Linked DNA regions of Homo sapiens. The protein of the gene in region 2 interacts with the protein of the main gene of each other region in a pairwise test. Each region holds a gene or a part of one and is shown on either strand. Other genes may lie near its edges.

Region 1 (3,500 bases), on a different chromosome or scaffold from region 2:
ATGATTGTTTAATTATAGGCAATTTGGGGTATTAATGAAAGCCCTTGGGCCCAGTTAGTGGTTAATTATTCTTGTTTTCTATTATGAGATTTGTAATGAAAACTATTACTCTGTTTATTAATATTATTAGTTGCCTTGTGTTGCTGCTAATAAATATTTGGGTGCAAGTGATGACACAACAAATCTCTTCCTTCCCTCAGGCCAAAGGAGGCATCCGTCCTCTTTTAGTTATTTCTCCTGGGGTCTGTCAAAGGAGCAATTAGAGGTGAGAGCCTATGCAACTTTGCTGTATTCCACAACTCCATCTCTGCCTCAAAGGAGCACCGAGCCTGAGGCTTGCATAAGGATGAAGACATGGCATTGTGTGCAGTCTCCCCTTGGGCAATTTATCTGCCCATGCCCCTTGTGGTGACAGGTGGGCATTGCAGGGTGTGGCCTTACCCGTCGTGGAAGGGGTAGCCCCATGTACTATTGGCCATGAGGCATTTAGGACCCTTGTTGATTGAAATGGCTGAGATGATAAACGAGTATCCAGCTCCCAAGAATCCAACCACAGCAAATATCGTGGAGGTGAACATCTGAAAGAGAGGAAGAGAGACAGTCACATTCTCCAGGTGGTCCAGAGGATACACTCAACAAACCTAATCCACCTGCTGTTGAACATGGTGACTACAAGAAGTTATGGAGTAGGAGCTAGTCTTTATAGTAGATGGGGCCTGTGGGGTCTTCTAGAATGAATTTTGGTGTCTTCTTTTCCCTTCTTCACTCCCATTTCCATTTCTTTTTCACCTTTTCATTGATGACAGAGGTGTTGGTTCTGTTACCTTTGAGCCATGGCCTTTTAACCTTGTTAAAGATAAACTCTCCTCCCCAGGGCTGATATATAAAGCCAATCTATTATAGAATCAAAGAACCTTAGGATTGGCGTAATCTTTTTTTTTGAGACGGAGTTTCACCCTTGTCGCTCAGTCTGGAGTGCAATGGTGTGATCTCAGCTCACTGCAACCTTCACTTCCCAGGTTCAGGGGATTCTCCTGCCTCAGCCTCCTGAGTAGCTGGGGTTACAGGCGTGCGCCACCATGCCTGGCTACTTTTTTGTATTTTTAGTAGAGACAGGGTTTCACCATGTTGGCTAGGCTGGTCTTGAACTATTGACCTCAGTTGATTCGCCTGCCTTGGCCTCCCAAAGTGCTGGGATTACAGATGTGAGTCACCGCACCTGGCCTGGCAGTAATCTTAAGTTTTCTGGTCAAATTATCCTGCTAAGGCCAGTCACTGTGATGTCTCATGTGACAGGCAGGTTCTACTTATGAGAAAGAGTAAAAGTTTAGAACCCCTCCTCATTGGCCCTCATTATGTTCCTCGAGGCCAAAAAGATCAAGTCTAACCTGTCTTCCATTTGGCATCAGTCTTTAAAATATCTGAAGATTGCCTTGACATCTCTCACCCCTTCCACCCTCGGAGCATTTTCTCTTCTTTAAGTTAAACAATCAAAAAATTCCATTCTTTTAAATATTTTTCTATGATGGAGATTAATGAAAAACAGATTAGACTACCATATTTTGTTTTCAATTATAAAATCAAAATAGAATTATTGACTGCAAAAGGCAGAAGCAATCCTGGAACCCAGCTAGGTTAACTCCCTCTTACGGATGAAAAAATGTAGGCCCAGGATGTTAAGAACTTTTGCAATATCCATTCTAGACAGTAACTAGAAAGTAGAATGAAAACATTTAAAATTTTGGAAGAAGAGGCAGAAAACGATCACCTCTGTTGCTTTGATGACGAAGCACAGGGTTTAAAGTCAGCAGACCCAGACCCAGGCTCATATCTCAGCTTTGCTAGTCTTCTCTGTGTAATGACTTTGCATAATGAATGTGTCCTCAGAGCCTTAGTTTTATCATCTTAAAATGGGCATGATAGAGCCCACCTTAAATATCTGTTGTGAAAATTAGACGTGGCAGCTTAAGCTAAATGTCGGCTATTTTCCCTTTCCCCTTTCATGTTATTAACAATATTATCATAGTACATATCTGGGATGGGGTAAGGTTTGAAGGTGAAGAGGACCTGATCGTGCCTGGGTGATTGGAATCTATGTAATAATGGAGTTCTACTTTAGCTGGGATTCATTTTCATATCATATATCAATGTATTTTGGATGCAACTTTTAAAAAAAGTCTTTTTAATAGAAAATTTAACTCTTTTGCCAACTCATCTGATTGATGCAACGTTTTAATACCAAGCTCTATTCATGTGCTTTGTCTGACTCTCCTTGTAGAACTGACCCTTCATTCTTCATCTCTTCCAACCCCTGTACTCTAGATTGCACAAATTTCTATCACAGCACAATGCCTCTAATACAATAATGCATAGGTTTTTTTGTTTTTGTTTTTGTTTTTGTTTTTAGACAGGGTCTTGCCCTGTCACCCAGGCTGAGTGCAGTGGTGCAATCGTGGTTCACTGCAGCCTCAACTTCCTGGGCTCAAGTGATCCTCCCACCTCAGTCTCCTAAGGAGCTAGGACTACAGGCATGCACCACCATGCCCAACTAATGCTTAGCTTTTTATGGCTGTCTTCTCCAAATAGAGCACAAGTTCCTTGAAGTCACAGACAATAAGTTATTTGAAGATAGGGCATTTTTCCACACTTAGCATAGTTTTACAGTTTTCCTTCTTCCTAGCTTATCAAAGGCACTGGATAATGACTTGTTGCATGTTTTCAATGACTAAGGTTTCATATTACTAATTGTTTAGATTTTTCCCCTTATTGTTTATGTTTAGGGTATCTAAATCCACTCTCAGCATCCAGAACATTCATGACTTTAACCTAGGTCAGAAGTAAGTGAACATTTTGGTAAATTTCTCGTGTTAGAACAGGCAATCTCTTTTCCAAAGGATGTAAGGTTGAATAAGTTTGAGAATTGCTGGATTACATAACTAAGTTTCATTCCTGCTGCACTTCTAAAAATATAGTACTTATGAAACATGAATTTGTGTAAACTTCTGAGAAGGAAATCTACTACATATGCTGGAATATAAGGAAAATCATTCACTCTCACATTATTCCTCAGAAATGAAGGAATTACCTTAGAGTTGAGTCCTTATTTCATCTATCAGGTAATAATGTATTTCCTCAAACACTTTATTTTGAACAACCAAGTACTGCCTAGAGAAGACATCAGTCAGAAACAACTCAATCATTGTTAGATGACAGAATTGTGTTAAAAATTTTTTCTTAACACATATTTATTAATTATTATAAAAAGGTTGAACCCATAGTTCCTAGTTCTGGATATTATAGTTAACAAGGTATTCTAGGCCTTGTTATAGTTTAAAGGGTATTCTAGGCCTAGCGTGGTGGCTCACGACTGTAATCCCAGCACTTTGCGGGGCCGAGGCTGGTGGATCACGAGGTCAGGAGTTCCAGACCAGCCTGGCCAATATGGTGAAACCCCATCTCTATTAAAAATATATAAAAATTAGCCAGGCACAGTGGTGCAT
Region 2 (3,500 bases):
TGAGATGGAGTCTCGCTCTGTCACTTGCCCAGGCTGGAGTGCAGTGGTGTGATCTCGGCTCACAGCAACCTCTGCCTCCTGGGTCCAAGCATTTCTCCTGCCTCAGTCTCCTGAGTAGCTGGCATTACAGGCATGCATCACCACACCTGGCTAATTTTGTATTTTTAGTAGAGATGGGGTTTTGCCATGTTGGCCAGGCTGGTCTCGAACTCCTGACCTCAAGTGATCTGCCCATCTCAGCCTCCCAAAGTGCTGGGATTACAGGTGTGAGCCACCACGCCTGGCCTGGACCTCTTTTGAGGGTTGTTTTTGTAATACACACAGGCAATCGGAAACTGTCATTCACTCATTCACTCATGTTTACCGAGTGCCTACCACTACCTGGCTGGTACTGTGCAAGCAAAGATGAGCAAGCCTTCCAGGAGCTTACAGATATAGTAGGTGAGGCAGACAAGTAGCCCAGCTATTGCAATGCTTTCCAACAGATGATAAGGAAGAGTTACATAATTCGGATTATGGGGACAGACAAGAGAAACATTTCTGGGCAGTAGTTTCAGGAGAAACTACGGTAGAGGAAGGGGGACATTTGGACTTCATATTTTGCTTTGCTTTTCCTATAGTCACAAAATACTTAATATTTAACCTCAGATCCACTCCTAAGCATACACTCAAGGGAAATGAAAGCTGAGACTCAACAGTATTATTCACAATTGCCAAAAAGTGGAAATAATTCAATTGTCCGTTGATGGATGAATAGATAAAACATGACACATATATATTATGATATATCATTATATACAGGGTTAGGGTTAGGCATGCAGCTCCTTGAGCAGGGACTAAAACACAGACCCAGGACACGATGTTCTTTTGCCTGCCTTATATAATAATAATAATAGTTCATATCACATTTTATGCCAAGTGAGATTCTAAGCACTTTAGAAATATTAACTCATTCAATCCTCTCAACAGCTCACGATGTAGGAATGCTTCTCATTTTAGAAGTGAGGAAACTGGCCGGGCTCGGTGGCTCACACCGGTAATCCCAGCACTTTGGGAGGCTGAGGTGGGCGGATCATGAGGTCAGGAGATCAAGACCATCCTGGCTAACATGGCGAAACCCCATCTCTACTAAAAATACAAAAAATCAGCCAGGTGTGGTGGCAGGCGCCTGTAGTCCCAGCTACTCGGGAGGCTGAGGCAGGAGAATGGTGTGAACCTGGGAGGCAGAGCTTGCAGTGAGCCGAGATCACGCCACTGCACTCCAGCCTGGGTGACAGAGCGAGACTCCGTCTCAAAAAAAATCAAAATAAAAATTAAAAAATAGAAGTAAGGAAACTGAAGCATAGAAAATGTGCATAATCTGCCGAGATGATCCAGTCAGTAAGTGATGGGTCTGCTTGCTGTTTCCAGAGCCCTTAACTACTACACCGTACTGCCAGATCTTAATTTTCATGTTCTACCCTCAAAGGTAGGAATTCTGTCCATCTCTAGTAGGATATATTGGGGAAAAAAATGCCCCCTATTCTTCACCCCTCCCTTATCCATGTCCGCTGTAATGTGACTTGGAAGTTCAGCCCATCAAGAGGCAAAATCGACTTTCCTAATCCATGAAGCTGGACTGGCCTTGCAGTCTGCATTGGCCAATGGAATGTGGTGGAAGGAAGAGGATCTGGTTTAAAGCCAACACTTCAAAAGACCTTTTCTGCTTTGCCTTTCTGAGAACCCTGCTGCTGCCATGTAATCAGGTCTAGGCTAGTCTACTAGAAAATGAGAGATCATGTAGTAAGAGAGCCCAGTTGTCCAGGTTGAAGCCACCTGCATTAGTCCATTTTCACACTGCTGTAAAGAAATACCCAAGCCTGCGTAATTTATAAAGGAAAGGGATTTGATTGACTCACAGTTCCACATGGTTGGGGAGGTCTCAGGAAACTTACAAACATGGCAGAAGGTGAAGGGGAAGCAAGGACCTTCTTCACAAGGCAGCAAGAGAGAGAAGAAGAACAAAGGAGGAACTTCCAAACACTTATAAAACCATCACTCACTATCATTAGAACAGCATGGGGGAAATCAACCCCATGACCTGATCACTTCCCTCCCTTGACACTTGGGGATTCCAGGCCCCTCCCTAGACACACGGGAATTACAATTCGAGATGAGAATTGGGTGGGGACACAGAGCCAAACCATATCACCACCCAAGACCAGTCTACATTTAACCAACCCCAAAATATGTAAAAGAACCCAGCCATGATCAGCCAAACTCGGCCCAGAGGCAGGATAATTTTTAAGGCTCTTCATACATATCAGCCAACTGCTTTCTAGGATGGTTATAAGGAAGAACAACATCATGACTGGAGGAGACAAAATAAGGTCAGTTGGCACTGCAGACTGTGGGAACAACATGGGCAAAAGAAAGCTGGAAGAGTGTGAGATATGCTCAGAGAACTATGAGCAGCCCATTTTGACTAAAAACCATTGTTCTTAAGGGGACTAGTGGAATAAAAGAACCTGGAGAAGTAAAGTAGACTGGCTTAGTCGTTTCTACCAATTTAGTAGGTGTTGAGAAGCCTTTGTATGTATAACATGTTCGTTTTCTCCTAACAGTACCATGCGGGTAATGTTATGATTTCCAGTTACAGAGAAGAGGCCCAAGGTCAGGATTTGAATATAGGCAATCTGGTATCAGAGCCTGCCTTATCCACTTACTGCAAAGCCGTAATGGAGAGACTAAAGGTGCAGAGAACAGCACTTTCATTGTTGTGAAAATACAATTAGCCAAGAAAGAAATTGTGAGGGCCTGACCTGAGGAAGTGTTAGTGGAGACCAACAGGAAGCAAGAACTGTGAGCAACACAGCAAGAGGAAGGGCTACAGGGCTTGGCAGTGGATTGAGTGGCCATGGCGAGAATGAGGGTAGTCACAGGGCAAGGCTAAGATGACAAGCCCAGGCAACTGCAAGAGGATGGGTGTCATCAGTCATCTCATTTGCAGAACGCACAAACCGGTTCCAACCAATGGATTCTGAAATGCCTGTGTGGGGTGAACACATGGAGAACTGCAAGTGCACTGCATGAAGCAGGAGTGAAGGCATGAGAAACGTGCTCAAGGTCATCTGCAGGGAGCTAAATCTCCACTTCCTCGTGTGTCAAATGAAGATGTTGTGCTAACCGCTCTTGGATTTTATCCAGCATTAACAGCAGATAAAACTCCTATCAATGACGATCCACTGAGTTTTGCTTAAAACTGATTTTTTGTTGGTATTCAATTATGAAGAAATGTAATTACTTAGATATTGTTTCACACCGTACTTGATTTTCACCTATTTGAGTTTCTACTGAAAATTGATTTTATTACTTTTGTACCTATAAGCTTCTAAAAATCTAATATTTAGTTTTTGCTTGTTTTTTTAGTTTTGTTGGTAAGACTCAAAATCAAAATTTAGAAAGAAAAGAGGAAAAGTAGCTAATATTTATTGCACAACTACTATGTACCTGGCACTCTG
Region 3 (3,500 bases), on a different chromosome or scaffold from region 2:
GTTATTGCCATTCAGGGCCTCTGAGTTTTAATAATTTAATAATTTAATTTAGTAATGAAATTAAGATATGGTTTGGTTTGCTTTCTATTACAGCATACTTGAACTAACACCTTGTTTTTCCTGGTGTATTATCTGATGACTGAGTGTAGGAACAATGTCATTAATGTGTGTTTCCTCTACTGCATAATTTCCACCCATGGAAGAGTCTCCATTAAGAGGACCTGCTACAAATGTGGAAGCTCAGAGACCTCGAAATGAAGTCATCTGTATCTGTTGGCCTGCTGGGTTAATTCTGTATGTGCTGGTGAAACTGGAGAAGTCTGCGTGCTTCTGACAATTGATGGTGGAATTCTACGAATTAAAGCGTTTTAGCAGGAAATGATTATGAAGGACCTGATCACTGTCTGTGTTTCCATAATGTGATAAGATTAGAGTAATGGGTGAAATGAGGAGCAATCAGGAAACATCTTTGTTCTTTTTCAACAGCTCTGAACAGCAACATGGGGTGCAAAGTCCTGCTCAACATTGGGCAGCAGATGCTGCGGCGGAAGGTGGTGGACTGTAGCCGGGAGGAGACGCGGCTGTCTCGCTGCCTGAACACTTTTGATCTGGTGGCCCTCGGGGTGGGCAGCACACTGGGTGCTGGTGTCTACGTCCTGGCTGGAGCTGTGGCCCGTGAGAATGCAGGCCCTGCCATTGTCATCTCCTTCCTGATCGCTGCGCTGGCCTCAGTGCTGGCTGGCCTGTGCTATGGCGAGTTTGGTGCTCGGGTCCCCAAGACGGGCTCAGCTTACCTCTACAGCTATGTCACCGTTGGAGAGCTCTGGGCCTTCATCACCGGCTGGAACTTAATCCTCTCCTACATCATCGGTAGGTCCCAGGGGTCCGGAGCTCGTGCCCTCTACCACTTTTCTGTTTGTTCCCACCTCCAAAGTGTGGGTGGATGCCCCACAGGGAGGTCATTCTTGTTAACACGAGAGGCACAGAATTAATAGGATGTTTCTGATTCATTTAGAGGTATTTAGTTTCTTTTAGTAGGTTTTTAAATTACTAGAGTAAATGCATCACTGATAGAGAAAAATTGGGAAAATAAAGAAAAGCATGAAGAAGAAAGTAGAAATACCCTGCCTGACAACATGGAGAAACTAATTCTCTCATTCATTCATTCATTCTTTTAATAAATGTTCATTGAGTACCTGCTCTGGGCTGGGCATTGTGCTAGATACTAGGGATCCCATGAAGGCATAAGACACTCTGTGTTCAGAAGTTTACTGTCTACAGATACAACTATGGTTAACATTTTTGTGAATTTAAATGTGTATTTTTCTACAGTGTATCTCTTTATAAAACAATATATAGTAAACATTTCTCATATCATTAGCTATTTTTCCACAGTAACATTTCTAATGCTTGCCTACCATTGTATAGATTTATATACACAGCGTAATGTATTGGTGTCTTTATGGGATGTTCAGATTGTTTCCATTATGTTGTTGCTGTTGTTATTAACAGTTAATTACTTTATGTCTTTGGGCTTAGCCATGATTCTTTTCCTTAAAACTGTCTAAGGAGCAGAATGGCTGTCAGTGGGTCTGCGTGTTTTTAAGGCCTTTGTTGACTGTGATCCTCCACGTAGCCAGGGGCCCCTTTCCCTGCAGTGTGGGCACTGGGCATCGGCCTGTAACACATCCACCCAGCAAATAAGGAAGCAAATGTAGAAAATCTTTCCGGTTTGCCAGGTAAACACGCTTTGCTTCTCTTTATGCTTTTTTGTATTTTGATTACAACTGAAGTTGAACACATCAACTTAAAAGAAACAAAAACCTAAGTCTCAGAAGCAAAGGGTACAAACGGCCACTCAACATGCCATTTATTTTTTTTTTTCTCAAACTTTTTGGTAATAGCGAAAAAACAGTAAGACCTGTTAAGTTGAGCCATGTGGGTTCCGCCTTGCTTCTGTGTCAGCTCCCACTGGACCCCACCACACCCTCCCTGGCCACACATGCTGCCTGCTGGGATCCTCGCAGCCCTGGGCTCCCCACAGCCCTATCTCTGCATGGGGGGCATCACTCCCCCTTCACCAGGACAGCTGGGGGAGGGCACACACTCACATTCTCCGAGCAGCACCTTCTCTTTCTTTCCAGCAGCTGCAGTATCTGCTGAGAGCCAACATAGCTTAGTCTTCTGGGTTCTAAAATAAAATTCACAATGTTTTCTTTCAATGCCACATCAAAACTTAACAACCACACATGGTTCTCACAAGCTGAAGTCTCTCACTGGGAATGTAGCTATTGTAAATGGACCGTTATGTTTCCAGAGGATTTACCTGAGCATAAAATATACATTGAGCATGAAATGCTTGCAGCTTCTAGACCAACAAATGTAAGGCTCTGCGAGAGTGCCGTTTGCTTGTGTGAAACCATTTGCATGCATTATAAAAATGTGTTCTCAGCCTTAGCTGCTGGGAAGGGCAGTTTTTCCAGCAAACATTTTTTTAAAAGGCATAATTCAGAAATTGGGAGTGGATAGGCTGGGAAGAAAGGCTGGGGTAGCCCCTGTCACTGAGCAGGACAGGGTTTGGGAGCCACGTTTGCCATAAGCCAGCTGCTTTGGGGGTGACAGGGAGATGGTGAGACCATTTTTACAGAATTCATAATAGATTGGCTGCTTAGGAGGAAGAAATGTGGTTAAACTTCTGAGTTGTTGGAAAGATACTTACTTATCATAAGACCAAATAGTGAAATTGAATCTCTGCAGATCACTGTGGCAATATGCTGTGGATAATTAGGACCATGGTCACCGACAAGGCCCGCTTTGAAAATAAAGGAAAACGCTCTATGAAAATGCTGGAATTTTAGTGACATTTCCTGAGAAACACCAATGGAAACACATTCTGACACCCTTTAGAATTATGTGAGAGGAGAGAATGAGAGTGAAAGACAGCAGCCAACTATTGTTGGCATTTTGAGTGCTGCCCTGTTGGTGTTCTTCGGCACCGGAGGGTGCAGGCTGAGGGGAGAACGAGGAGGGCTGGGGTCTGTCTGCTGTCCTGCACTCTGGGGATGCTGTGGCCTCCGAATCAGGTTCAGGCAAAAAGTGGCAGAGGTGGCTGATGCCAACACTGAGATGAGCAAGTGGCTTTGTCCCTGAGATGGAGTTCAGCCCCTTCAAGGACTTCCTAGGGCCCCTCTTCTTGCTGAGAGAAGAATTATGGTGCAGGCACCATCATCTCTGCAGCCAAGGGGTTCCTAGAAAAGAGGCTTCCTAAGCAGCATTCCTCCAGACTGCCAGCTGCACCCCAGGAGTGCATTATGAAATCAATTTTTCATGAGTTGTCATCAATGTTTACTTTTTTTAATGAAACAAAGTAGGTAGCATTAAATATTATCAGAGTGCCTCTCAGGTGGTAAGGGTAACACTCGTTTTGCGAACTTTTTATTCGGATATATATATTTGATAGAATACACCTGTGTATATTGGGTAGGATGTGAAGTGCATTC
Region 4 (2,829 bases), on a different chromosome or scaffold from region 2:
TGCTAACATACTGAGACTCACCTGGTGAGCCAGCTGTGGTCTACCTTAGCACATGGGCCACGAGCTCTTGCAAAGCCGTGTGCTTCAGCAGTGTTAGGTGAAGCATCCTCTAAAGACCGCTCGCTTGTGTTGGCTGATGTTCAAATCTCTGTCCTTACAGATCTCATGTCTGTCAGTTACAAAGTACGGAAAGCACCCGTTAAAATTCTGTTTTTATCTCATTCTCTTCAATTCTGCCATTTTGCTTCATGTATTTTGAAGCTGTTATTTAGTGCATATACATTTGGGGTTGTTATGTCTTGATAAATCGATCTTATCATTATTGTCTCTTTACTCATTTCTGGTACCGTTCCTTGTCCTACCGTCTATGTTGATATTAAAAATATCAAGAGTCTGAAACTTTACATCATAGTGAACAAAGAAAACCTAATATGATGCCAGGGAAAAGATTTCAGGATGTTCAAAATCTGTTCCTGATAAAAATAATCTGAATTCAAAAATCTTTCATGACTGATTTTTAATCACACTGAGGCAAATATCCCCCTCAGACAGAGGCTGCACCGGTACAGCTGCCATCTCCTCTTGGTGGTGTCCTTTGTCAAGAGCATGTCAGGGTGATGAGTCATCTGGGACAGGTCACCCTCCCAGCACCGAGAAGCCGACGGGGGAGGAACAGACTCCTCTGCATTGTGATCCAATTGTGAACAAAAAGTCCTCTTCGTGGAACAGGAAAAATACACTCCCTCTAAACAATGGATTGAACACAGATGTGATTTCTAAAGAAGACTGAAGGCAGGGATACTGACACTGAAGTCCTGCCTGTGTAATAACACCGAAGAGGGCAGGGAATCGCTGCGTCCTGTGACTTGAAGGCCACTGTGAAGGAAAACAATGCAGTGAAAGAAAGTTCCTCCTATGTGGACATTGTATCACGTTTATTTATCTTCCTGGATATGCTTATGGCCTTTAAAACATATTAAAATAGGCTATGCTATTATCTCTTAAAATATCTGTTTTCCCTCAGGTAACTGGAGACGCACCCTGCTACTCCTCACGTCACTCTTGTTCCCTAAACCAGGCTGGGCCTCCCACTCGCCCCACAGGCAGGTGACGTATGACAGCCAGAAACCCCAAATCTGCAGTTCTCCCCAGGATGAAACGAAACACAGTGTGACAGGCTTCTGATAAGGGAATCAATGTCTGTTTATTAAGGCAGATGCTCATAAAAGTGACTTTCAGTAACATTTTCAGTATAAAAATGGATTTACATTTCATTTCTGGAAAACCGTTTTGTACAGTCTGACCATGGCTAGGAGTCCCAGGGACAGCAGCCTCTGCTCAGGGCAGACTCTGTGATTCACTGTCTGTCCTGCTGCTACCCCACGTGGGGGAGAACACGTGGGCTGAGAAAAAAAAACAGCATGTGCAAACCTGACAGATGTCAAGGGTCCCAACACAGTTCCTTCAGCGAAAATAAAGCCCAGTTTTAAGATGTGCAGGGAAGTGTTGACACTGAACAGGCAGCTGACCAAGCCCTGCAGGGCTCTGAGCAGGCAGGCGAGTCCCAAGGAGAGTCAGTGACAGCACATGGGGCAAGGGAGCTGGACAGAAGACCCCAGAGGGTGCGGCACCTGGGTGAGAGCCCTGGACTGCACACCAAGGCAGAGGGGTGCCCCTGAAGGACTCTGGGCAGGCAATGACAGGATCTGAGGGTGTCCAGACGCAGATCTCCACTGCCTGAGGGAGAGTGATCAGCCAGGGGGAGAGGCCAGGGACTGCTACCTGCCCAGAAGGCGGCAGGGAGGGGAAGAGCAGATAAGGAGGTATAGGGTGTGCCCTGGGCAAGGCAGCAGGGGTAACGAAGCTCTCAGTGACTCCTCCCAGTAGCCAGGGGAGAGCAGTGACAGTCTCAGGTGGCCCTGAGCATGTGAGCTGCTCATCCACATCAGGCAAAGGCAAAGCCAGGACCTGAACTTCCCACCCCAAGCCCTACATCCATGCAAGCCAGACCAGACTGGGTCAGAGGCTAGAAGGGAGCTCACAGGATTGCCTGGGGAAGCCTCGGCCCAAAACCTGGCCCTCGCTCCAGCCCAGAGCACCCACCTGGGCATGAGACTGGCGGCAGCCGTAGGGGTGCCCTGGGTATATGCCGGGCTCCCAGGGTGCCATACCTGCCAGCCAGCCCAGGGAGTGGTGATGGGCTGGGTGCTGGCTGTCCCTGCACATAGCAGTGCCCCGCGGCAGTAACTACAACTGCTGCCTGCCCCTCACCCCTGGTTATGCTCGGCCTCCCCTGTGCATTTCTGTGTCCGTAAGTGTCCCCTGTGCATTTCTGTGTCCACAAGACTACTATAAACCCTGTAGACACCTCACAAACAGCATTCCACGCAGGTGGGTTCATGTCCCAGGGGCATGGGGCTCCCTGCTGCACAGACTTGGGATGTTCCATGACAGACCCTGCATATGCAGGCGAGCTCACAACCCAGGGGTATGCGGCTCCATGACACCACCCCATACTCAGGCGAGCTCACGACCCAGGGGCATGAGGCTCCATGACACCACCCCATACGCAGGCAAGCTCACGACCCAGGGGCATGGGGCTCCCTGCTGCACGGCCTCAGGATGCTCCATGAGCAACCCCCGCACTGGGCTATTCACGGATGCACACTACCTGCCATTGTCACAGGGTTGCCCTCGTGTCCCTCAGCCCAGCAGACAAAAGGTGCAGGAGAAGCCTGCCCAGGGCCGACCCCAGCCCAGAGCCCACTCGACACTAAGGAATCACACAGGCACAGCTGCTCCTCTCCCAAGAACTCAGCTATTGGTCAG
Region 5 (3,500 bases), on a different chromosome or scaffold from region 2:
CCATTCAATTACTAATTATAAATATTAATTATATTATATTATATTCTTCCTTACACTGATGCAGTTGTAAAATATGATTTTTAATATTTTTTTAAGTGAAGGAGGAGCCCACAAAGACAGAAGTGCCCAGGGCTCAGGAGTCATAATGTGGCCCTTCCTTTCAAGGTTCCTGGAGGATATCTTCTCTAGGAAGTCTTTATAGACTGTGAGGGAGGAATAGGTGGGAAGGTGGGGGAAGAGAAATGCAAGACAGGGGTAGAAGAGAAGAGCTGGCCTTTAGTGATCCCATCATTTAAAGTATAAGCTTTCTTCCTATCTGTGATTTCTATTCTTTTGTCTATTGCTGTCTCTGAACTTACACTTGCTTGGACCCAGTGGATAGGAGACTGTCCTAAATCACTACTTCACTCATGTCACTCGCTGGATCAAGAATGCAGCCAGGTGAGGTGGCTTGCGCCTATAATCTCAACAACTCAGGGGCAGAGGAAGGAGCATGGCTTCAGGCCGGGAGAGTTGCCTGAGCAACATAGCAAAACCCTATCTCTACAAAAAATTTTAAAATTAGCTGGGCGTGATGGTGCACGCCTGCAGTCCCAGCTGCTCAGGAGTCTGAGGTGGGAGGATCCCTCAAGCCCAGATGTTTGGGTCTGTAGTGAGCCAGGATTGTGCCACTGCACTCCAGCCTGGGCAACAGAGTAAGATCCCATCTCTTAAAAAAAAAAAAAAAAAAAAAAGGTCAGGCACAGTGGCTCATGCCTGTAATCCTAGTACTTTGGGAGGCCAAGGCAGGCGGATTGCCTGAGCTCAGGAGTTTGAGACCAGCCTGGGCAACATGGTGAAACCCCGTCTCTACTAAAATACAAAAAATTAGCCGGGTGTGGCAGCGTGTGCCTGTAATCCCAGCTACTCAGGAGGTTGAGGCAGGAGAATTGCTTGAACCCGGGAGGTGGAGGTTGCAGTGAGCCGAGATGGTGCCACTGCAATCCAGCCTGGGTGACAGAGCAAGACTCCATCGCCAGAAAAAAAAAAAAAAAAAGAGAAAGAGAGAGAGGACTGATTCAACGATCAATTTTTTAAAAAAAATTTTTAAAGGATATAAATATACAACTGAACAAGAACAAAACAAATCAACTAAAAAATGGGACAAGACTTGAATAGACATTTCTCCAAAGATATACAAATGGTCAATAAGTACATGAAAAGATGCTCCACATCACTATCACTAGGGAAATGCAAATCAAAACCACAATGAGATACCACTTCACACACAATATGATGACTACCATTAAACAGAAAGTAACAAGTGTTGGCAAGGTTGTAGAGAAACTGAAACCTTTATGCATTGCTGGTAGGAATATAAAATGGTGCAGCTGCTGTGCAAACCTATATGGTGGATCCTCAAAAAAATCAAACACAGAATTACCACATGATATAGCAATTCCACTTCTGAGCATACATCCCAAACAACTGAAAGCAGGGTCTCAAGAAGATATTTGTACACCCATGTTTATGGCAGCATCAGTCACAATAGCCAAAAGGTGGAAGCAACTCAACTGTCCATCATAGATGAATGGATAAACAAAATGTAATATACACATACAACAATATTATTCAGCCTTGAAAAAGTAGGAAATTGTGACATGCTACAATATGGATGAACTTTGAGAATATTATGCTAAGTGAAGTTAGCCAGACACAAAAGGTCTATTGTATGATTCTACTTACATGAAGTACCTAGAGCAGTCAAATTTACATAGACAGAAAATAGAACGGTGTTTGCAGGGAAATGGGGAATCAGTGTTTAATGGGTGTCAAGTTTCGGTTTGGGAAGGTAAAGTTCTGGAGATGGATGGTGGTGAGGAACATGAATTACTTAATACAGTAGTCCCCCCAGGCCAGGCACTGGCCTGTAATCCCAGCACTTTGGGAGGCCGAGGTGGGCGGATCACGAGGTCAGGAGATCAAGACCATCCTGGCTAACACGGTGAAACCCCGTCTCTACTAAAAATACAAAAAATTAGCCGGGCGTGGTGGTGGGCGCCTGTAGTCCCAGCTACTCGGGAAGCTAAGACAGGAGAATGGCGTGAACCCATGAGGCGGAGCTTGCAGTGAGCTGAGATGGCGCTACTGCACTCCAGCCTGGGTGACAGAGCGAGACTCCGTCTCAAAAAAAAAAAACAACAGTAGTCCCCTCTTATCTGCGGTTTTGCTTTCCTAGGTTTCAGTTACCCGTGGTCAACTGCAGTCCGAAAACATTAAATAGAAATTTAACAGAAAAAGAAAATTCCAGAAAGGAACAATTCATACATTTTAAATTATGTACCGTTCTGAGTAGCGTGATGAAATCTCACACCCTGCTCCATCCTGCCTGGAAAGTGAATCATCCTTTTGTGTCCATGCTATAAACGCTTAGTAGAGTACCACAGCGCTTGTGTTCAAGTAACCCTTATTTTACATGACAGTGGCCCCAAAGCACAAGAATAGTGATGCAATTTGGACATGCCAACAAGAAGTGCTTCCTTTAAGTGAAAAGGTGAAAGTTCTTGACTTAAGAAAAAAAAAAAAAGAACTGTGTACTGAGGTTTCTAAGATCTATAGTAAATAAGACATTTTAAGTGAGAGAGACCATTTTCACATAACTCTTATTACAGTATATTGTTATAGTTGTTCTATTTTATTATTATTGTTAATCTCTTACTGTGCCTAATTTACAAGTTAAGCTTTATCATAAGTATGTATGTACAGGAAAAAACACAGTATAGATGGGGTTCAGTACTATCTGAGATTTCAGGCATCCACTGGGGTTTTTGGAATGAATCCCCTGTGGATAAGCGGGGACTACTCTACCACTGAATTGTCTGCGAAAAAATGGCTAAAATGGTAATACCTGTACTATGTTTATTTTACCATAAATTTTAAAAAAGAAAAAATGGCATGAGCCTGTAATCCCAGCACTTTGGGAGGCCGAGAAGGGCAGATCACTTGAGGCCAGGAGTTTGAGACCAGCCTGGCCAACATGGCGAAACCCTGTCTCCACTAAAAGTATACAAATTAGCCAGGCGTGGTAGCGCACGCCTGTAATTCCAGCTACTAGGGAGACTAAGGTGGGAGAATTGCTTGAACCCAGGGGGCGGAGGTTGCAGTGAACCGAAATTAAGCCACTGTACTCCAGCCTGGGTGACACAGCAAGACTTGGTCTCAAAAATAATAATAATAAAATTTAAAAAATGTAAACAGCTCCCCCTTGCCAAGGTTCTAATCCCTCAGCTAGCTGCCAAGGTATCACCTTTTTTCCCTTGTGGGCAGGATTATTCTGGAGGTCCTCTGCCCACCCGCTTCCTGAACATCCTCCAGGGTAAATCGTCTCTGTAGCTTCACACATGGTATGAGGTATTCTACCTTTATCTAGAGCAGGTACACACGAAAAAGGTATTCTACGTTTCTCTAAGATACCTGCTGCGCCCCTTTGCCTGTATGAACCTTGTCCGTCTTTCAAGGGC
Region 6 (3,500 bases), on a different chromosome or scaffold from region 2:
ACATGCTCTTTCACTGGTCACTCCATTCTTTTTCCTTTAAAGACTTGTATCATATATGCTTGTCTTTTAATTCTTCCAGTCTCTCTTGTATTCATTCTAGTCAGTCTCTCTTCCCCTCTCCCAACCATACTGGAACTGCTCTTACTGAGTTCCCTGATGACCTGTTAAAAATACAGTGGTCATGGCTGGGTGCAGGGCTCATGGCTGTAATCCCAGCACTTTGGGAGGCCAGGATGGGTGGATCATGAGGTCAAGAGATGGAGACCATCCTGGCCAACATGGTGAAACCCCGTCTCTACTAAAAATACAAAAATTACCTGGGGGTGGTGGCATGTGCCTGTGGTCTCAGCTACTCGGGAGGCTGAGGCTGACGCAGGGGAGTCGCTTGAACCCGGGAGGTGGAGGTTGCAGTGAGCCAAGATCACGCCATTGCACTCCAGCCTGGCGACAGAGCGAGACTCCGTCTCAAAAAAAAGAAAAAAAATACAGTGGTCTCTCTTTGGTTTTCATCTTACTTATGAGCAGCATTTGACACAGATGATGGATCCTCCTCCTGGAGGCACTTTGTTTGGTTTCCAGGACACTACCCCCTCCTGGCTCACCTTATGTTCCTTGGTACTTCTTTTTCAGTCCCCACAGCCTATTCCTTCTTATCTTTGTGATCTCTAATTATTGGAATGCTAGGAGTCTGTCTTAGCCATCTTTATCTTTTTAGTTGTTCAGGACAAAAACTTTGGAATCTTCCTTGATTCCTTTTATTTACCCTTCCTCCACCTCCCCAGTCAGTCCATCAGCAAATCCTGTCAGCTCTCCCTTAAAATGTACTTGGAATCTATTTTTCATCACCTCCACTGCATCCATCTTAGACCAAGCCATTACTTCTTGGCCTCGTGATTAAAGTAGTTTCCTAACCAGTCTCCTAGCGTTGTGCTTTTGTCCCTCCTTCTTCTCCCCTCCCCCTCCAGATTTTTACTACAGTAGCCAGAATTCTCTTTCTAACAGGTGAGTCAGAACATGCAGTCTTACACTTAAAACACTCCAATGGATCTCCCTTTCAACGCTTTTTGGTTTTAGCATCTTAAAATGTCATTTAGCATCTTAAAATGTCCAAAATCAAACTGCTGATTTTGCCCCGAAATCTTTTGTGTCCGTGGTCTTCCCCATCTTAGTAAATGTAACTCCAGGAGTGCAGAGCTATTTGTCTTTTTTTTTTTTTTTTTTAAATCTGTACCACTTACAGCAGTACCTGGCACTTGGTAGGCACTCAGTATTTACTGAATAAATGAGAAGAAATGAGTCTTTCAAAGAGCAGGGTAAGAGAATAGTGTTCTAGGTAATATGAACCATAAGTGCAAAAGAACCTGACGGGGCCCAAGTTTGGCATGTTTAAGGAACTGAAAAGAAGGCCAGCCTGGGCATGGTGGCTCATGCCTCTAATCGTAGCACTTTGGGAGGCTAAGGCAGGAGAATTGCTTGAGCCCGGGAGTTTGAGACTAGCCTGGGCAACATAGCGAGACCCTATTTCTGCAAGAAATTAAAATATTAGATATGGTGGCTTGCAGTACTCAGGAGGCTGAGATGTAGGACCTGCAGTAGTGACCCCTGATTGCTCCACTGCACTCCAGCCTGGGCGAGAGCCAGACCCTGTGTCAAAAAAAAAAAATGGCCAGTCTGGGCAGGAGCTTAGGTACTGTATAAATTTCCTGTTGCTACTGCGGCAGTGAAGTCATATGTACTGTTGTAAAGTTCTGGTGGTCAGAAGTCCAGAATGAGGCTCAAGGGGTTAAACATCAAGGTGTGGGTAGGGGTTCTGGAGAATCAGTTTCCTTGCCTGATGCAGCTTCTAAACACCTGGGATCCCTTCCCCATCTTAATGCCATGAGCACAGCCTCTTCAAATCTCTGTCTCTCATCTCTACTTTGCTTGTTTCATCACCTTCTCTCACTGACCCTCCTTTGTTTCCCTTGTAAGGACCATTGTGATCACGTCATCTGACCAGCCTGGGTAATCCAGGATGATCTCTTGACCTCAAGATCCTTAACTTAATCTCATCTGTGAAATTCTTTTTGCCAAGTAAATTTACATATTCACAGGTTCCAGAGATTAGAACCTAAACATTTTTGGGAGGGGTGAGGAGGTATTCAGCCTACCACAGTTAATGAAGAGTGAGTGGCCTGAGATAAGGTCTTAGAGATTGGCAGGGACCAGATCATGATAGGTCATGATAGGGAGTCTGTTTTTCAGTCATAGTGCTGAGAGGTTTCAGTAGGGGAATGATAGGATTTGATGTGAAAAAGTCTCCCTGGCCGCTGGATGGCGATTAGACTGTTGGGATCGAGAGCAGAAGGCCTCAGCTTTTTATTCATAACATCATACGGTGGATCTCAATCTTGCTGTACGTTATGATCACACCTCAAAGCAATTATATCTGAACCACTGAGGGCTGGACCCAAGTATCAGCCTTTTTTTGTTTGTTTGTTTGTTTTTTAAGAAAAAGCATTCTAATTGTAGCCAGGGTTGAGAACCACTAGTCTCATAGATCTGAATCCATTTTACCTTTTCAGCCTTAGCTCAGTAGGAGCTTCTCGCATCCATCACTTACTGCATGAGCTACTTGACCATTTCTTAGACAAACTTCCTGTATTCCCACCTGTGCCTTTCAAAATATACCTAGTCTAGGGAGGCCTACGCGGACTGTCAGGGCCCAGCTGACAAACTCTCCTCCAGAAAGCTTCTCCAGTGCCCTGTAGTAGGAATGATTTGCTTCCTTCCCTGGCTCCCATTTGCACTTAGATTTCTCAGCCCTGATCACAGTCAGCTGTATATTATCGTCTCCTTTGCTTATTTACTCATGCCTTCAACAAATACTGTACCACTTGGCTGAATGCTCTGCTAGACACTAGGATTTACTACAATGCAAAGACAGTCTTGGTTGGGCGTGGTGGCTCACACCTATAATCCCAGCACTATGGGAGGGTGAGGTGGGCGGATCCCTTGAGGTCAGGAGTTTGAAACCAGCCTGGCCAACGTGGTGAGACTCTGTCTCTACTAAAAATACAAAAATTAGCCAGGCTAATTAGCCGAGACACACTCCTGTAATCCCAGTTACTCAGGAGGCTGAGGCACTAGAATCTAGCTTGAACCCAGGAGGTGGAGGTTGCAGTAAGCTGAGACCATACCACTGTACTCCAGCCTGGGCGACAGAGCAAGACTCTGTCTCAAAAAAAAAAAAAAAAACCTTGTCTTCTAGGTCCTCCAGCAGCTTAATCTATATGGAGGTAGGAGCGGGTAGATGTGCAATAAGAATACTCTGAGATGATTGTTCAAATGGAGATTCGTCCAAGTGCTGTGGGAACATGGGGATTTCAGAGACAGGTTTTCAGCTATTTCAGTATTTGAGCTAAAAAACTTGAAGGATGATTTGGTATTTGGTGGTGAGCAGGGCATGAGGAAGGGAAGAGTTTTCTGAGACAACATGTGAAAGGCAGGAGATGGGAGAG
Region 7 (3,500 bases), on a different chromosome or scaffold from region 2:
AATACATACATAGATACGTACGATGTATGCATGTATATATATATTTACCCAGGGCTAGACTCCTCCATTCCACATTCAAAACCACCTCTGAGGGAGAGAAAAAATGGCCACAGCCACCACTGCCCAAGTCCTTAGGTCAGTTCTCCCCTGGATGTTTTCACCAAGGCCCCCCACCCTGGCTGCTTGAAGGGCTCTGTGATGAGAGCTCACCTGCAATGACGACAATGTCCATTATGGTGGGGGTGGAGGTCTCCATTCTGCCATCCGGCCATCCAGACATCCCTGGATCAGGCTCTGTGAACAGAGGACAAGAATCTGAGGTCAGAGAGGAAGATTCTCCATGCCTAGCAGCACCTTGGCCCAAGCTGCATCCTTTGCTCAGGTGTGAGCAGCTCTGAGAATGGGTCCAAGTGGAAAGGAGCAGTGCGGCGCACCCACTGCTCCTAGCAGGGATGCACAGACCAGGAACCAGGTTCTGCTTGGTCACTGACTGGGATGGAACTGTTTGAACCTGAACCACCAGGTCACTCCAGGCCCATTTGAGTTATCTGCCTAATGCCTGCACTGAGAGTGGTGCTGCACGTGGTAGATGCTCAACAGATATCTGTGCTGTGTATGAAGGCAGGGACTCTTGTTGTGTTTAAGAAAGAATGTTTGTGGAGTGTCTGATGCTCACACCAGGTGTCTCAGTCCATTTTGTGTTGCTATAGCTGAATACTTGGGTAATTTATAAAGAAGAGAGGTTTATTTGGCTCACAGTTCTAGTGGCTGGGAAGTCCAAATTGGGCAGCTGCATCTGGTGAGGGCCTCATACTACTCCCACTCATGGCAAAAAGCAGAAGGGGATCTGACATTCGCAAAGAGACCACAAGGTGATATAGAAAGCAAGAGAGTTTAGAAAGCTGAATTTGCTTTTATAACAACCTGCTCTCCAGTGACTAATCCAGTCTCACGACAGCTAGAACTCCCTCCCTCCCTCAAGGGGGTATTAATGTATGCATGAGGGATCTGCCCCTGTGACTCAAATATCTCCCACTAGGTCCCACCTCCCATCACTGCCACCTTGGGAATCAGATTTCAACATGAGCTTTTGCAGGGTCAAACCACATCCAAACCATAGCACCAGGTGTTGCTTTAACTGCCTTCTATCTACTCTATCATGCAGTCTTCACATCCATCCTATGAGGTGCCTGGTGTTAATGGCCCATCTCACAGGAAGAACACCAAGGTTCAGAGACGTGATGTGCCCTTGATCACACAGCTCATCCGATATCAGGTCAGGACTTGGCCAGTGCTCTTGCCTCTGGAGTGCACTTTCTCTCTTGGAGAAGCCCTTCCCAGGGCTCCTGTCTGAGGAGTCATTCCTGAAGCCCTCCCATAGGTCTTTACATTGACTCTGCTGTGGGAAGGACCACTCTATGACACTATCCAAGTTACTGAGTGTGTTTTTTCACAGCTTAATGACCTGGCCAAAGAGGGTAGGATGTCTAGGACATTGGGGACCGGGATGTTTCCTAGAGCTGCTGCACAGAATGCCTTCTCTCCTCTGGGAGATGATTGTGAAGAAGGATTTATTGGATCACAGAAATATCAGTGTTAACATAGGAAATCCCACGTTCCCATTACAATGGCTCTACATAATAAAACAGAGAAGGATGCTTCATAATAGTCATTTCCACTCAGATAATCACTTTAATTATAGTGCTATGAGGTCATTCTCCCCAGTGCAGCTGCCAGATGCCTCTTTCTTATAAGTAACTGCCTGCTGGAGTCAGGAGTCATAATGGGTGAGGGGAAAACAGACTCCCAGCTAGGGGTCCACAGCAGGACACAGATGGGCCAAGCTAGGGGTGTCTGGGGCCACCAAGGAGCTTGGAGGTGGGGAAGAAGATAATACAAGGCACTGAGGCAGCCCAGGGACCCAGTGAACACTGGCTCAGGATCTGGGTCTCGGGAGCCAGGAACCAGGCAGGGTATAGGATCCAGCATTCACGGTGTTTCTCAGTAGCAAGACCTGAAGCAAGGGCCGTAGCAAGTTCAAGTGGGTGCTAGACTTTATTATATAGAGTGAACAAGTGCAGCCTCCAGTTTAGTATCTAGCACATAGTAGGTACTCAATAAATATTCACTGAATGCATGAGTAAATGCATGCATATATAAATGAATGGATTTAGTGGTGGGGTTCTAGACTTTTCCAATCAACAAGCACCTCAAAGTTCAGAAAGAAAGAATAACACCTTGCTTAAGTAGGCATGGATGGTTATAGAAGCTCAAATACCCAGAACTGCCCTCAGAAATTTTCCAGGTGAAGACAGCATTTATTAGGACAGTTTGTCCAACACAATCAGCGTTAGAAGAGACTGTTATTTCCTCTTCCTTTAAAACAACTAACAATCGCTTACTAGGTGCCAGGTGCAGGTCTCAACATTTAAAGCAATTTAACATGGTCCTTGCAACAGTTGCAAGAACACTGCTTGGAGATTATTCATTCTAAAACCAGGGAAGTCCCAGAAAACAGGGCAGAGCTGGTTGCTGTATGTACACTATACAGGGGGAAAAATGAGGCTATTAACTGTGCTTGGGGCAGGTTGTGTGGTTTGTGTTTTTCAATGGCCCGATGACTGCTCCTCAGCCTACCCTGCTCCCATTCCCTCCTGGCGATTGAGGACTGGGGTGAGTCTGCAGGAGGAGCAGGACTTGGCCACACAAAGGACTGAAGTGGGAGAGGGTAACGCAGAGAATGCCAAGGTGTTGGCTGTGCGAGGGGCAGTCACCCCTCACTTCTGCTGGGACTCCAGAGGGGTGGGGAAGTACAGTGTAAGGCTGCTCAGGAGGGGTCAGATCACTCAGGACCTTGAGAGTGAGGGGGCAGCAGTCTCATGGGGTGGGGGTGTTTTGAGTTTGGGCATTTACTTTGAAGCTGCAGAGCAAGCCTCTGTCTTTTCTTAGAATGCAGGTTTATTTGGAGGCCTTGGGGAGGGACTGCTGAAGAATATGGAAAGTCTGAAACTGCTCCCAAGTCCCACCTTTATAGAACAATTTCCTAAACTTCCTACTGCCTTCAGGGGAACACTTGTATCTGCATAATGTTAATAATATCACCTAGGAAGAATAAAAGCTCAGTGGTGCAATGAGTTGGAGAATGCCAGGTTACACAGAGTCCAACAGGTGTCTTTGATTGCTTGCTTCTGCTGCTTTTTCTTTCTTTTCAAATTGTAGATGTTTCCTGAGTTATTAATAAGCTGCTGAGAAGTGTGGATCTCAAAGAAGGTCGCAGAGCACACAGCACCTCCCAAACTTGGTTGTTCTTCAAACACAGTTTGCAGTCACAGCCATGACCCATGGGGAGCCCGTTGCTCAGGGTTCAAAGCAAGGCAAAGGCAGGCTCAAGTTTCCTTGAGGATGGAGGGTTGGGGGTCATGGACCCAGGGAAGAAAATAATGTGGGATGAGGGAGACGGTGGAGAAGTCTAAGTAGCCTGGTCAGTCTACCCTCATCTC

Evidence for each region.
Region 1: the proteins of SLC10A6 (region 2) and TM4SF4 interact in binary tests that used the Homo sapiens proteins (3 or more experiments, as listed by UniProt).
Region 3: the proteins of SLC10A6 (region 2) and SLC7A1 interact in binary tests that used the Homo sapiens proteins (3 or more experiments, as listed by UniProt).
Region 4: the proteins of SLC10A6 (region 2) and LSS interact in binary tests that used the Homo sapiens proteins (3 or more experiments, as listed by UniProt).
Region 5: the proteins of SLC10A6 (region 2) and SMAGP interact in binary tests that used the Homo sapiens proteins (3 or more experiments, as listed by UniProt).
Region 6: the proteins of SLC10A6 (region 2) and TVP23B interact in binary tests that used the Homo sapiens proteins (3 or more experiments, as listed by UniProt).
Region 7: the proteins of SLC10A6 (region 2) and GYPC interact in binary tests that used the Homo sapiens proteins (3 or more experiments, as listed by UniProt).

Annotation. Positions count from the first base shown.
Region 1 is NC_000003.12:149,484,697-149,488,196, reverse strand, and holds part of TM4SF4 (transmembrane 4 L6 family member 4), read right to left. Parts: intron 579-3,500; coding exon 442-578; intron 1-441. UniProt on the Homo sapiens protein: Regulates the adhesive and proliferative status of intestinal epithelial cells. Can mediate density-dependent cell proliferation.
Region 2 is NC_000004.12:86,842,885-86,846,384, forward strand, and holds part of SLC10A6 (sodium-dependent organic anion transporter), read right to left. Parts: intron 1-3,500. UniProt on the Homo sapiens protein: Transports sulfoconjugated steroid hormones from the extracellular compartment into the cytosol in a sodium-dependent manner without hydrolysis.
Region 3 is NC_000013.11:29,533,189-29,536,688, reverse strand, and holds part of SLC7A1 (high affinity cationic amino acid transporter 1), read left to right. Parts: intron 1-486; 5' UTR 487-500; coding exon 501-870; intron 871-3,500. UniProt on the Homo sapiens protein: High-affinity, low capacity permease involved in the transport of the cationic amino acids (arginine, lysine and ornithine) in non-hepatic tissues.
Region 4 is NC_000021.9:46,187,946-46,190,774, forward strand, and holds the end of LSS (lanosterol synthase), read right to left. Parts: 3' UTR 501-2,829; downstream 1-500. UniProt on the Homo sapiens protein: Key enzyme in the cholesterol biosynthesis pathway. Catalyzes the cyclization of (S)-2,3 oxidosqualene to lanosterol, a reaction that forms the sterol nucleus.
Region 5 is NC_000012.12:51,263,916-51,267,415, forward strand, and holds part of SMAGP (small cell adhesion glycoprotein), read right to left. Parts: intron 1-3,500. UniProt on the Homo sapiens protein: May play a role in epithelial cell-cell contacts. May play a role in tumor invasiveness and metastasis formation.
Region 6 is NC_000017.11:18,784,183-18,787,682, forward strand, and holds part of TVP23B (Golgi apparatus membrane protein TVP23 homolog B), read left to right. Parts: intron 1-3,500.
Region 7 is NC_000002.12:126,690,658-126,694,157, reverse strand, and holds part of GYPC (glycophorin-C), read right to left. Parts: intron 295-3,500; coding exon 211-294; intron 1-210. UniProt on the Homo sapiens protein: This protein is a minor sialoglycoprotein in human erythrocyte membranes. The blood group Gerbich antigens and receptors for Plasmodium falciparum merozoites are most likely located within the extracellular domain.